3 linked regions of the Homo sapiens genome follow. The protein of the gene in region 1 interacts with the protein of each later gene in a biochemical or structural test. Each region holds a gene or a part of one and is shown in the gene's direction. Other genes may lie near its edges.

The links.
Region 2: the proteins of CD36 (region 1) and VWC2L form a complex in vitro, tested with the Homo sapiens proteins (one large-scale study listed by BioGRID).
Region 3: the proteins of CD36 (region 1) and SCRG1 form a complex in vitro, tested with the Homo sapiens proteins (one large-scale study listed by BioGRID).

The regions. Positions count from the first base shown.
Region 1 is NC_000007.14:80,666,081-80,669,738, forward strand, and holds part of CD36 (platelet glycoprotein 4), read left to right. Parts: intron 1-362; coding exon 363-409; intron 410-3,658.
Region 2 is NC_000002.12:214,409,629-214,413,856, forward strand, and holds the start of VWC2L (von Willebrand factor C domain-containing protein 2-like isoform 1 precursor), read left to right. Parts: upstream 1-1,425; 5' UTR 1,426-2,158; intron 2,159-4,228. Other genes in the region: SPAG16 (sperm-associated antigen 16 protein), read left to right, coding at 512-687.
Region 3 is NC_000004.12:173,392,594-173,396,251, reverse strand, and holds part of SCRG1 (scrapie-responsive protein 1 precursor), read left to right. Parts: intron 1-3,081; exon of another isoform or gene 3,082-3,195; intron 3,196-3,658.

The DNA.
Region 1 (3,658 bases):
CATTCTGAACACTTATACTACTGAGTAATTCATGTATCCCATTGGAAAAAAAAAAATTTCCCCTAAGTAGAGATCTAAGTTTCTGATAAATGTTTTTAATTTTTTTCTTATTCCAAGATGTTTCTAATTAACACCTGGCAGTTTTTATTTTATGATCTGGCTACCTAATGGCATCAGGTACATTGCAATAAGATAAAAGGTTCAAACAAAACATAAACAGAATTGAACATTTCTTAAACTTAGTACTTGTCACATTTAAATGCATCATATTAACAGAAGTATTGAATTATAATAGAAAAAGTAATGTAAGAAAGGTATTCTTTAAATAAGAATGTTTATTCATTGTCTTTTTCTATTCCTAGGAATCTGTCCTATTGGGAAAGTCACTGCGACATGATTAATGGTACAGGTAAGAATATTTGTTTTGTGGTCATCACAGTTAATCCACCTCCCTTTCCCACAAATCCACCGTTGTACTGACAGTGTTCTGAAAGTTGAGGGTGTGTGTTTACTTGCCTTTATATCCCCACAACAAAATTCAGAGTCACTATTTGTATATAGGCTAAAGGTCTGTTCAATGTGATGGGATTTGTAAAGATTAATCATAAAAAATTAGCCCTTACTGCATGATTCAGAGAAATGTTTGCTTTGTAAAAACTTTACTGCCATCCTGGCAACAGAAGTAAATGGTAAAAAACAAACAACAACACAAAACACTTTAGTTACATTTCAAATATTTTATAAATAGTATACAGATAAGTTAGAATTGAAAGAATTAAAAAAAGCTAATTACAAAATAGAAAACATATCTAAGCAAGGCTTATAGCTGAGATAGAATAAAGTTGCAAGACAGAACCATCCATTTTTGGATAAGGTGGTCAGAATGAGAGAGAAAACAATAACAAAGTCAGATGTCTTCTTAACTGTGAAAAATATATGTAAAAAATGAGCATTCATAAACTTAGATTTAAGGTATGGTTAGATCAGGCTTATTCTCCTTCAGGAAAAGCAAAGTACAGATATGCCTATTAGTTTAAGAATTAAGATTTTTAAAAAGCAATGGGAGGCTGGTCACAGTGGCTCATGTCTATAATCCCAGCACTTTGGGAGACCAAGGCAGGTAGACTACTTGTGCCCCGGAGGTTGAGACCAGCCTGGGCAACATAGCAAAATCCCATCTCTACAAAAAAAATACAAATATTAGCTGGGTGTGCTGGCACACGCTTTTAGTTCCGGCTACTTGGGAGGCTGAGGCAGGAGGATCACTTGATTCCAGGAGGTGGAGGCTGCAGTGAGCTATAATTGTGCCTCTGCACTCTAGCCTGGGCAATAGTGTGAGACCCTGTCTCAAAAAAAAAAAAAAAAAAAAAAGTGGTGGGAATCGAATACCATGAAGTAATTAATATCCAGAGGCAAGCTTTCAACTACTAGGAAACAAAAGCATGAAGTTTAGAAAATTAGGGAATATCCCATAGGAAAATGATATAACAAAGATAAAGACACTTAAGTAAAAATGAAGTACAGAGAATGTTTACTTTGCCAAAGGTATGATTATTGACTTCGTATGCGTACTTGATTCTATCATTGCCTTGTAGGAAATGATAAACAAAAAAAGCAAACAAAAAAAACAGCAAAAACACTGTTGGATTTGCAGGGGTTTTCTTTTGTTTTTTTTTTTTTTTTTTTTTGAGACATAGTCTGGCTCTGTTGCCAGGCTGGAGTGCAGTGGTGCGATCTCGGCTCACTGCAACCTCTGCCTCCTGGGGTTCAAGTGATTCTCCTACCTCAATCTCATGAGTAGTTGGGACTACAGGCATGTGCCACCACACCCAGCTAATTTTTGTATTTTTAGTAGAGACGGTTTCACCATGTTGGCCAGGATGGTCTTGATCTCTTGACCTTGTGATCCGCCCCCCTCGGCCTCCCAAAGTGCTGGGATTACAGGCTTGAGCCACCACACCTGGCCAAGGCTTTGCAGGGTTTTGAGCCATAGGAGTGGGCAAATAAGCTATTTTCTAAGTAAAGCATTTCTGGAAATAAATTTTCAAGTCCTCAATACTACCAATGCTAGTAGTTGTATAAGCGGAATACTTAGTCCTTAGATGCAGAGATAAATATACTGTGTTAATCCTAGTAAAGGATTCTTTAAGGAGAAAAATCTTTAAAAAGAAGATTCATTGACAATAATAGAAATGCATGAGCATCAGGCATGATGTTAAAAATATCTATGGGGAAAATAGGGCTGATACAAACTAGGAAAAGAGGGAATTTGGACAGAGCAGGGGATGATCCCTGTGAGAGAGATTCTTGCTTATGGCACTAGCGAAAAGAAAGTAATAAAACAGTAAGGTTCTAATGTGTTTTCATCGTAATTTAGAAGTGCATCCTCTTTACCTTCTTCAGTAAGTTTGAAAAGACTTAAAATGAAAGTATTGGTATACATTTAGAATGTTTCTTTTGGGAGGACAGAAAAAAAGCTCTGCAAATATCAACTATGTTGCAGTCATTGTCCATGGTAGTTGCTGGGTATAATTAGGACATAATCTTCAATGATATTTTAGATAATGATCTTAAAAGCTTTTCAATGCATTTTTCTTTAATTATTAAGGAAATGGAAAAGCAGTTGTTGTCAATGTCCATATGGGGGCTTATATTTTACTTGTCACAAGAGTGTAAACTAATGAAAACAAGGTCACAAGGTTGACACACTTGCCAGAGAAAGAACCTACAATGCATAATCAAAGATGAGACTTACCATTTAAAACTCATTCAATGACGGCTCGTATTAGTGATATTCATGTGAGAAGTACATGGAGGAGTTAACTATTTCTTCATATATCCAATGTTTGCCATGGATCATAGCTGTAGCAAAAAGTAAATTCAATAAATGACTTTTTTATACACTTTCAAAGCATTTGAAGTTCTGTTTAGTGAGAGAACTTTAGTAAATATTTTTAGAAGTAGTAATCAGCCATTAGGACAAATGAGAAAAAAAATCACTACAAATAAATGTGGACATGGCAGGAGATCCAAATGAACTTCACTGGAAGAAAAGTGCCACTCTACTGGTGGGGTAGGGCATTTCAAAAAACAAACACAATGTTAGCCTTAACATTTCATGTTTAAGTTTCTTTTATTTTGTACCATTAAATATGTATAGTATGTAGATTTGTTGTTGACAATAGCAGCCGCCAGCCATATGTAACTGTTAAGGACTCAAAATCTGGCTAGTATGATTTGAAATGTGCTGTAAATATAAAATGCACAGTAGATTTTGAGACTTTAAGAATTTAAAATATTTTATAATGGTTACATGTTAAAATATTTTGGATATTAATAAGTTAAATATAGTTTTGTTTTGTTTGAGACAAAGTTTTCCACTTGTCGCCCAGGCTGGAGTGCAATGGCATGATCTTGGCTCACTGCAGTATCCGCCTCCTGGGTGCAAGCAATTATCCTGCCTCAGGATAGCTGGGATTACGAGCGCCTATCTCAGGATAGCTGAGGCAGGCCTATCCTGCCTCAGGATAGCTGCCTCCCAAGTAGCTGGGATTACAAGCGCCTACCACCACACCCAGCTAATTTTGTGTATTTTTAGTAGAGATGGGGTTTCACCATGTAGGCCAGGCTGGTCTCAAACCCCTGACCTCAGGTGATC
Region 2 (4,228 bases), on another chromosome or scaffold:
GTTGAGTTCATGAGTATCACAATTTTTAAAGCAGGAATGTATATTGAGTTGTAAGTAATGATTAGCATAATTATTATAAATAAGTTTAAAGAAGAATACAAATGTTTTCCATAAATTTTGAAAGCTATGCCTTTTAAAACTTTCTAACATATAATTTATTTGAAAAAGAAAGTTGCCTTGCATAGTTGCTTTCAATCTCATCTCCTCGAAATGCTTTATTAATCACAAATATAAAAGAATAGTAGGATGTTTGATGAAATCTGCATATAAAGGAGGTAGACCATTAGGCTCTATGTCCCAATTAGAAAATTTTATAACCTAATTATTGATGTGTCTTAATTTTGACTCAACTTATTTCTTATACCTACAGGAGCTACTGCATATTTAATAACTGACCCCTAACACAGAATGATAATTGAAAAAAATAGAATGCTTCATTGCTTATAAACTGTGAACACTTGAAATAAAACTTTGATTCATTCTCTCTCTCTCTCCTCTCTGTCTCCCTCAGGTCGAGTTTTAGCTCAGGCAAGTGGCAATGGTGTTATCCATTTGCTAGATCTTAAATCTGGGGAGATTCACAAATTGATGGGCCACGAAAACGAGGCACACACGGTTGTGTTTTCTCACGACGGGGAGATTCTCTTTTCTGGAGGCTCTGACGGCACAGTTCGAACGTGGTCTTGACCGTCAGCACATCCCGCTGCAGAGGGCATTCCCTTTAAGGCTTGAAAATGCCTCCTGTAGTCCCAAACCAGCAAAGAACTGGTTAAATGTGCCAGCAGGTAACATTTACAGTCTGCTTTAAAACATGCTTTGGACATATATTTTAGTGCTCATACTGTTACTAATAAAAAAATAACTTTATGCTCACCCATTTGTGTCAGGGTCTTTTTTCTCTCTCATTTTGATAAGAATTTAGAGACACGGCATCTTTGCTAGGGGTTTTGAAAGAAACAGCTTTACAATGACGCCTAATGACAGACTAGATGAATTACAGGAGATTGATTTTTAATGTTAGAGAACAAACTGCAGGAAAACCTGGCTACTTTAAAAAAAAAAAAAAAAAATCAGATCCAAGCTGCAGGAAGACCTGAAGTTTAATCATGCAGCACCAGGGAAGTCTTTCTGCCACCAAAGGGTCAAATAGAATCGACAAGCATACGTTTTCACAGATTGTTTGACAATGATTATGCTTTATCTATTAATAATAATTGGGGACTGCAGATGGCTTAAATCTAAATGCAAGCCTCTTCTGGAACTTTCATCTCTGCAGCCCATCCAAGAACGCGTTAGGTATACAATTTTATACAAAAAAAATTAATTGCAATTTCAATGCAAATAAATATCTCGCACGTAGAATGTCTTTACCCCTCCTAATGCGCGCATCCGCTGTATAAAGTGCGACTGCTTGGAGAGCACTCTAGCCTCGTCTAAAGCAGCTCTGGGATTTCGACAGAGCTGGGCTCAGAAGCCAGTTGTTGGCGCTGTCCGTGGTGCTGAGGAATTCCCGGCTGCCGGCAGAATGAGCTCCAAATCAGCAATCTGCAAACTGCTCTTACTGATGCAGAAACCCAGCTAAAGTTGCTCCTTTCCTTCACATCCACAGTTAGTATTTTCCGGTGTGTAAGAGGGGATTCAAGCAACACACTGTGGACGATGGTGATGGTATTGCCAGCGGAGTGGGCTTTAAGCTACAGCATGCTGTTGCTGTTTGTGATCCTCAGAGCCTAGCCAAATCACCTCTACTGCCGTAGCAAACACTGTGTAAGTGAACTCATGTGTGGAGGAGGCGTAATCAGCCGGGAAATTTCATAGAAGGATCTAAGAAAATGCTAAAAATAAGTTCAACATGATTCTGCTACTGGGGTCTGGATTTCTACAGGACCAGCTTTGCTTCTTGCTTTGAATTCTGAAGACAGGTCCAAAGCAAATTTCTTATATGTGTCTGCTGTGTTTCTTTCTGGAAGGGCGGGAGACTGCTTCTTTACTGTGTTTTGAAATGGGAGGTAGAGAGAATGGATTGCCTTTAATTCATGCCTAAAAAATGTATTCTTTGGGTAATTAAAGAGGAACTGCTTTCTTAAAACATACCTGACCTTTTAGTTCATTTTGGGCTGTGACCCCTACCACCACCATTAACCTCCAGAGTGATTAGGTAAGTGTATCTTATGACATGAATTATGTTTGTTTTCTCAAAGAAATAGATGCAGTCATTTTAAATCATCTGTAGCAATATGGGGAGGGGGGGAAAATTAAGCTGGGAAGTGATCCTCAGTTTAGCAGTGTTTGCTTTCTTTTTAAAAATCTTCAGATAAACATTACATTTGATTTATCCCATGTTTCTTCTCTTAAATAGTATCTTAAATTGTACTAGGGCAGCTCAATTATGAAGGCTTTTTTTTAAAAAAAAAATAGCCTAAGAACTTTGTTATATTGAAAATAAAATCTTGTTTTTTACCATGCAGATTTTAAGATATATTTCATATAATAAAAACATATTTAATGTTTATATAAAGTAGATATTACATTCCTATTTTTACCTCTAAGTTTACATTTACCATAACCTAACACATTAATGCCTACCTGTGGCTTACAAAGAGATCATTTTCTGCCTATGTCCCTTTGAAGCAGAATCATATGTGTATTTTATATGGCTTATCTTGCATGCATTGACAGATATTGCTGGAATATTATAAGGAAGCACAGTAGCTTTCTTTTCCTCCAAGATAAACTTTCTAAATATGTGATGTATAAATGCTTGCTTTAATTAGTAAATTATATTTATGCTTTTTCAGAAGCTTCTGTTATGTTTGTTATCTCTGTAGTAATTTGAGAGAAAAAAATGCTTTGTCAAAGGGAGCTTCCAGATTCTCAAGTAGAATTATAGGTTTGCATTTTCTTGTTCTGTCATGACTTATTATTTTTGACATATTTTATAAGAAATCATCGGCTTTATTACCTACCCAAAGGGAATTCTAATATCAGAGGATATCAGAGTAATTCTGATATCAGCTTTCTCCAGAAAGAGGGCATACTACCTTCCATTTTACTATTACTAGAACTTGTATATCTACCTTAAAATGCAAATATAATAGTTTATGAAGTTTCCTAATGTCATCTTTATCTTGTTATCGTCTGTATATGTTAGACTGAAAAGAGATGGTTTATCATTGCTCTTAATATAATCTGAAAATAAACCAATGTATAACATTTATAACTGACCTGAAAATGTCCTGTATACCATCTTAGTGTTATTGGCATGAAGCCAATAGCATTTAAATAAAAAAATGAGCTATTTGACAATACTTTTTCTTATTTATTACTCCCTAAAGTCACAGTCTCCCCAGAGCCTCTGTGTGATTTAGTTATTCTAAATATTTAAATAAGAGCCCACTCCCAACACTTCACATCAAGCACCAATACTAAGTGGAGTTTACAAGAGTCAGTGTCACAAAATTAATAAGGCATATTTTCTATGAATGGTTAACACTTAATTACAGTTTTAAGCAACTTCCATAAAGAATTTTATGCTGGCATCTTTGTGCAGATTTTGTACATGTAAATATTTTTGACATTTCAAGAGTTATGTTTTCAAGATCTCATAAATTGTATTTATATTATATTGCAAATTTTAATTTAAATAATATTACATATATACTAGATTCAAGTTACTGTGAAGTAAATTTATAGATAGATCTTTCCTGCCCACTAGGAGCTTCCTTCCTATGTAAAATAATGTGGACAATAATACAAATAAATTTGTTTTTAACAAACTCTTTTAAGCACATGGAATTCTCTTGTATTATTTATTATTTCAAATTTTCTTTCTCTTAATCACTATGGAATAGTTATGTTGTTTTTGTTATCAACTTTATTTCAAAAATCCAGACTCACATTCACTTAAACAGGTAACTGATGTTGACGCCATTGTTGTTCTTTAATTATGGGCATAAATAAGTAGGAAATCCTTTATAGTAGCTCCTTCCTAAATATAATTTATATTCAACTGTTGGTTTATTCCCTTTCCTTTAGAATTAGATTTTTTTCTCACTAATCTCTTGAGTTGACACAGATAATTATAACATATGTTCCATCACTGACTAGTCCAGTTTAAAGAATAATAGAAAATGTGAGTTCAAATATTCTTGAGCTATTTGTAAGTTACTCCTTGGATCACATTTTGGGGCTCAGTAAAACCATTTCTTTGCAATTTAGATAAAGCCAG
Region 3 (3,658 bases), on another chromosome or scaffold:
TCACTTTAATATCTAACAGGCATCTCAAACCTAACTTGTCTAAAAACTCATTTCTGGATTCCCCCCAAAATTGGCTCCTTCCAATTCTTCCTCAGTTCAACAAATGACAACACCATTCAAGCCAAAAGCCCAAGAGTCATCCTTGATTCTTTCCCTCTTGCTTCATATATCCCATCAGTTCTCACCAAAAGCCTGTTTTCTTCTATTTCCAATCTTGTCCCACCACAATACATCTTCACAGGCCAGCCAGGGATTTTTTTAAAAAGGCATAAATCAGATCATGCTACTGTTCTGTCAAAATCTTCCAATGGCTTCTTAATATACTCAATAAAATCTAAACTCTTTATCATATCTTCTAGGCCCTTTATGATTGTTCCCAATCTTCCTTCTTGGCTGTAGGTAAATTCACATAATAACCAATTCACTAAATAATTAATCAGCTCTATGAATTTCCCACTCCCCATATCCAATTGTAGTCATATTCTCCAAATGGTTAACCAGCTTATAAAAATGCTGACAATGACAAGGCATTATTTACTCAAATTCACAGTTCTTGTAGGCCAGATTATATATAAGTGCTTTGGGAACATAGAGCAAGGGAGCTATGAGAGTAGTATTGTCTGAAATCAGGGAAGGATTCTTAGAAGATATGAGTGTGAGGTTTGTCCTTCATGGATGCTTTGGTCAGAAATTAATATCAAGGGAAGGGGTGAGAAGGAACAACAAGGCAGAGACACATACATAGGATTAAAGAGATGACTGGCTTGACTGCCCGGCTAGCTGAACAGGAATAAATGATAGGCATGGAGACAAAGTGAAAGGAAGGCCTTAGGTTAGCCCAAGAAGTCCATATATTCTTTTAGACAACATAAGACCTCTATAGGCTCTTGCCTAGAATAAAAAATGTGTTTTTGGAAAATCATTCATTTTCAAATATGGGCCAAGCATTGTATTAGCCACTGGTGTATGGTAGTGAACAAAATAAATTGTTGTCATGGAGCCTTCGGTCTAATGAGAATGACAGACATAAAATGAGTAAATTCACAAATATATCATTTAAATTGTGATAAATATCATTAAGGAAAAGAAAGGGCGCTATGAAAGAACAAAGTTGAAACTACCTTAGACTGAAAGGCCATTGAAGGAATGACATTTAAACTGAGACCTAAAACTCAAAAAACTAGCCCAAAAAAGAACATTCCTGGTAGAGAGAGCAACATATAGAAAGACCATAATGGAAGAAAAAGATTTCTTTTTAATTATAAGGAAATACTCTATACATCTTTATTGTTAAATGCAACAAAATAGCATAAGAAAATATGAAACTCATTGATAAAGATAAGTGTATATACAAATACTGACTACTATATTACTAAAATGGTGGTGGTTGAATTCCATTTGATTCTAGCATAAAAGTTGAAAGACAAAAGTATTAAAATAACTATAATTTAAAATATGTTTATGGATACACAATATAAATAGATGTAAATTGTGACATCAAATAACATAGTGTGGTGAGAGAGAATTAAAAGTGTAGAGTTTTTGTATGTGATTGAAGTTAAGTTGTTATTACCTCAAAACAGACTTATAATTATAATTTTTTTTTTGAGACGGAGTCTCTCTCTGTCACCCAGACTCAGGTGCAGTGGCACAGATCTCGGCTCACTACAATCTCTGCCTCCTGGGTTCAAGTGATTCTCCTGCCTCATCCTCCCAAGTAGCTGGGACTACAGGCGCTCGCCACCACGCCCGGCTAATTTTTTGTATTTTTAGTAGAGACAGGGTTTCACCGTGTTAGCCAGGATGGTCTCGATCTCCTGACCTCGTGATCTGCCTGCCTCGGCCTCCCAAAGTGCTGGGATTACAGGTGTGAGCCACTGCGCCTGGCCAATTATAAAATATTTTATGTAAGCCTCATGGTAACCACAATGGAAATACCTATAGCAGTTTACACAAAAGAGAAAGGAATCAAAGCATATCGGAAAAAAAAAGAAGAAGAAGAAGAAAAAGAAAAACACAACCAACAAAACACAAAGGAAGACAAGGCAGGGGGGAAAAGCACCAAAGAACTAATTACAAGACAACTAGAAACAATAAGCTAAACGGCAATAGTAAATTCTTCCCTATCAATAATTACTTTACATGTAAATGGATTAAACTCTCCAATCAAAAGACTTAGGGTAGCAGAAAGAAAAAAAAACAATATATAACTATATGATTTCTACAAATGACTTACTTAACATTTAAGGACACACACAAGCTGAAAGTAAAGAAATGAAAAAAGATACTCCATGCATATGGTAACTAAAAGAAAGCAGAGTGGACTATTTCATATCTGACAAAATAGACTATAAGTAGAAAACTGTCACAAGAGACAAAGAAGAAAGTATAATGATGAAAGGGTCAACCCACCAGGAAGCTATAACAATTATAAATATATACACACTCAATATCAGAGCACATATATATATATAAAACAAATATTGACAGAACTAAAATGAGAAATAGCAACACAATAATAGTAGGAAACTGCAATACTCCACTTTTAGTAATGGTTAGAATAACCAGACAGAAAATCAACAAAGAAAGAGTGGACTTCAACACCAGTGTAGACCAAATGGACCTAACAGACATATACAGAATGTTCAGTTAAACAGCAGAAGAATATACATTCTTCTCAAGTACATACAGAAAATTCTCCATGATAGATCACATATTAGGTCACTTAAACCATGACCTACAAAAAGCCCATTGGAAGATATCATTTATATATGCTGGATTGTGATGCACTGTAACACTGCAATGTCTTAGTCCATTAAATCTGAAAATATATAAAATGAGGTAGATCTCATTTTAGTCTTTTCTTTCACTAATGTTTGGAGGTAGGAATTAAATTGGATATTGATAATTCTAAGGAAATATATAGCCAAAGCCAAAAATGGCTAACTCAAATTAGAATGTGAGACAAAGAAACTCTGAAACTCTTAGGAGTATGAAGAAATACTTTGTTTCTAATCTAAAGGGAAAAAAGCAATAAATGTATTTATTTAAAAATCCATTATCTTATCTAAAATGACTTACCTTTAAAAGATACCTAATCACTAAAAACTTTATACCAAAAATGTCCATTGCACAATATTGCTTTCTTTTTTTTTTTTTTCGAGACGGAGTCTCGCTCTGTCATGCAGGGTGGAGTGCAGTGGCTTGATCTCTGCTCACTGCAACCTCTGTCTCCCAGGTTCAAGCCATTGTCATGCCTCAGCCTCCCAAGTAGCTGGGATTACAGGCGCATGCCACCATGCCTGGCTACTTTTTGTATTTTTAGTAGAGACAGGGTTTTGCCATGTTGGGCAGGCTGGTTTCAAACTCCTGACCTCAGGTGATCTGCCGGGTTTGGCCTCCCAAAGTGCTGGGATTACAGGTGTGAGCCACCACGTCTGGCTATTCCACAATATTGTTTTCTTTCCAAGTACAATGTCCTCCATCTGTTTTCCCTCTTTCCAAGGAAGGAAAGATACTTTGGCACCTGTTAACAAGATAAAATCTGAATGGCTCTGGATTCTAATCCTGGTTCCTCCACTATTTTGCTATTCTTCCTTTACTACAATAGTCTCCATTTTCTTCACATCTAATGTAGAAACCAGAGAAGTCTAATTAG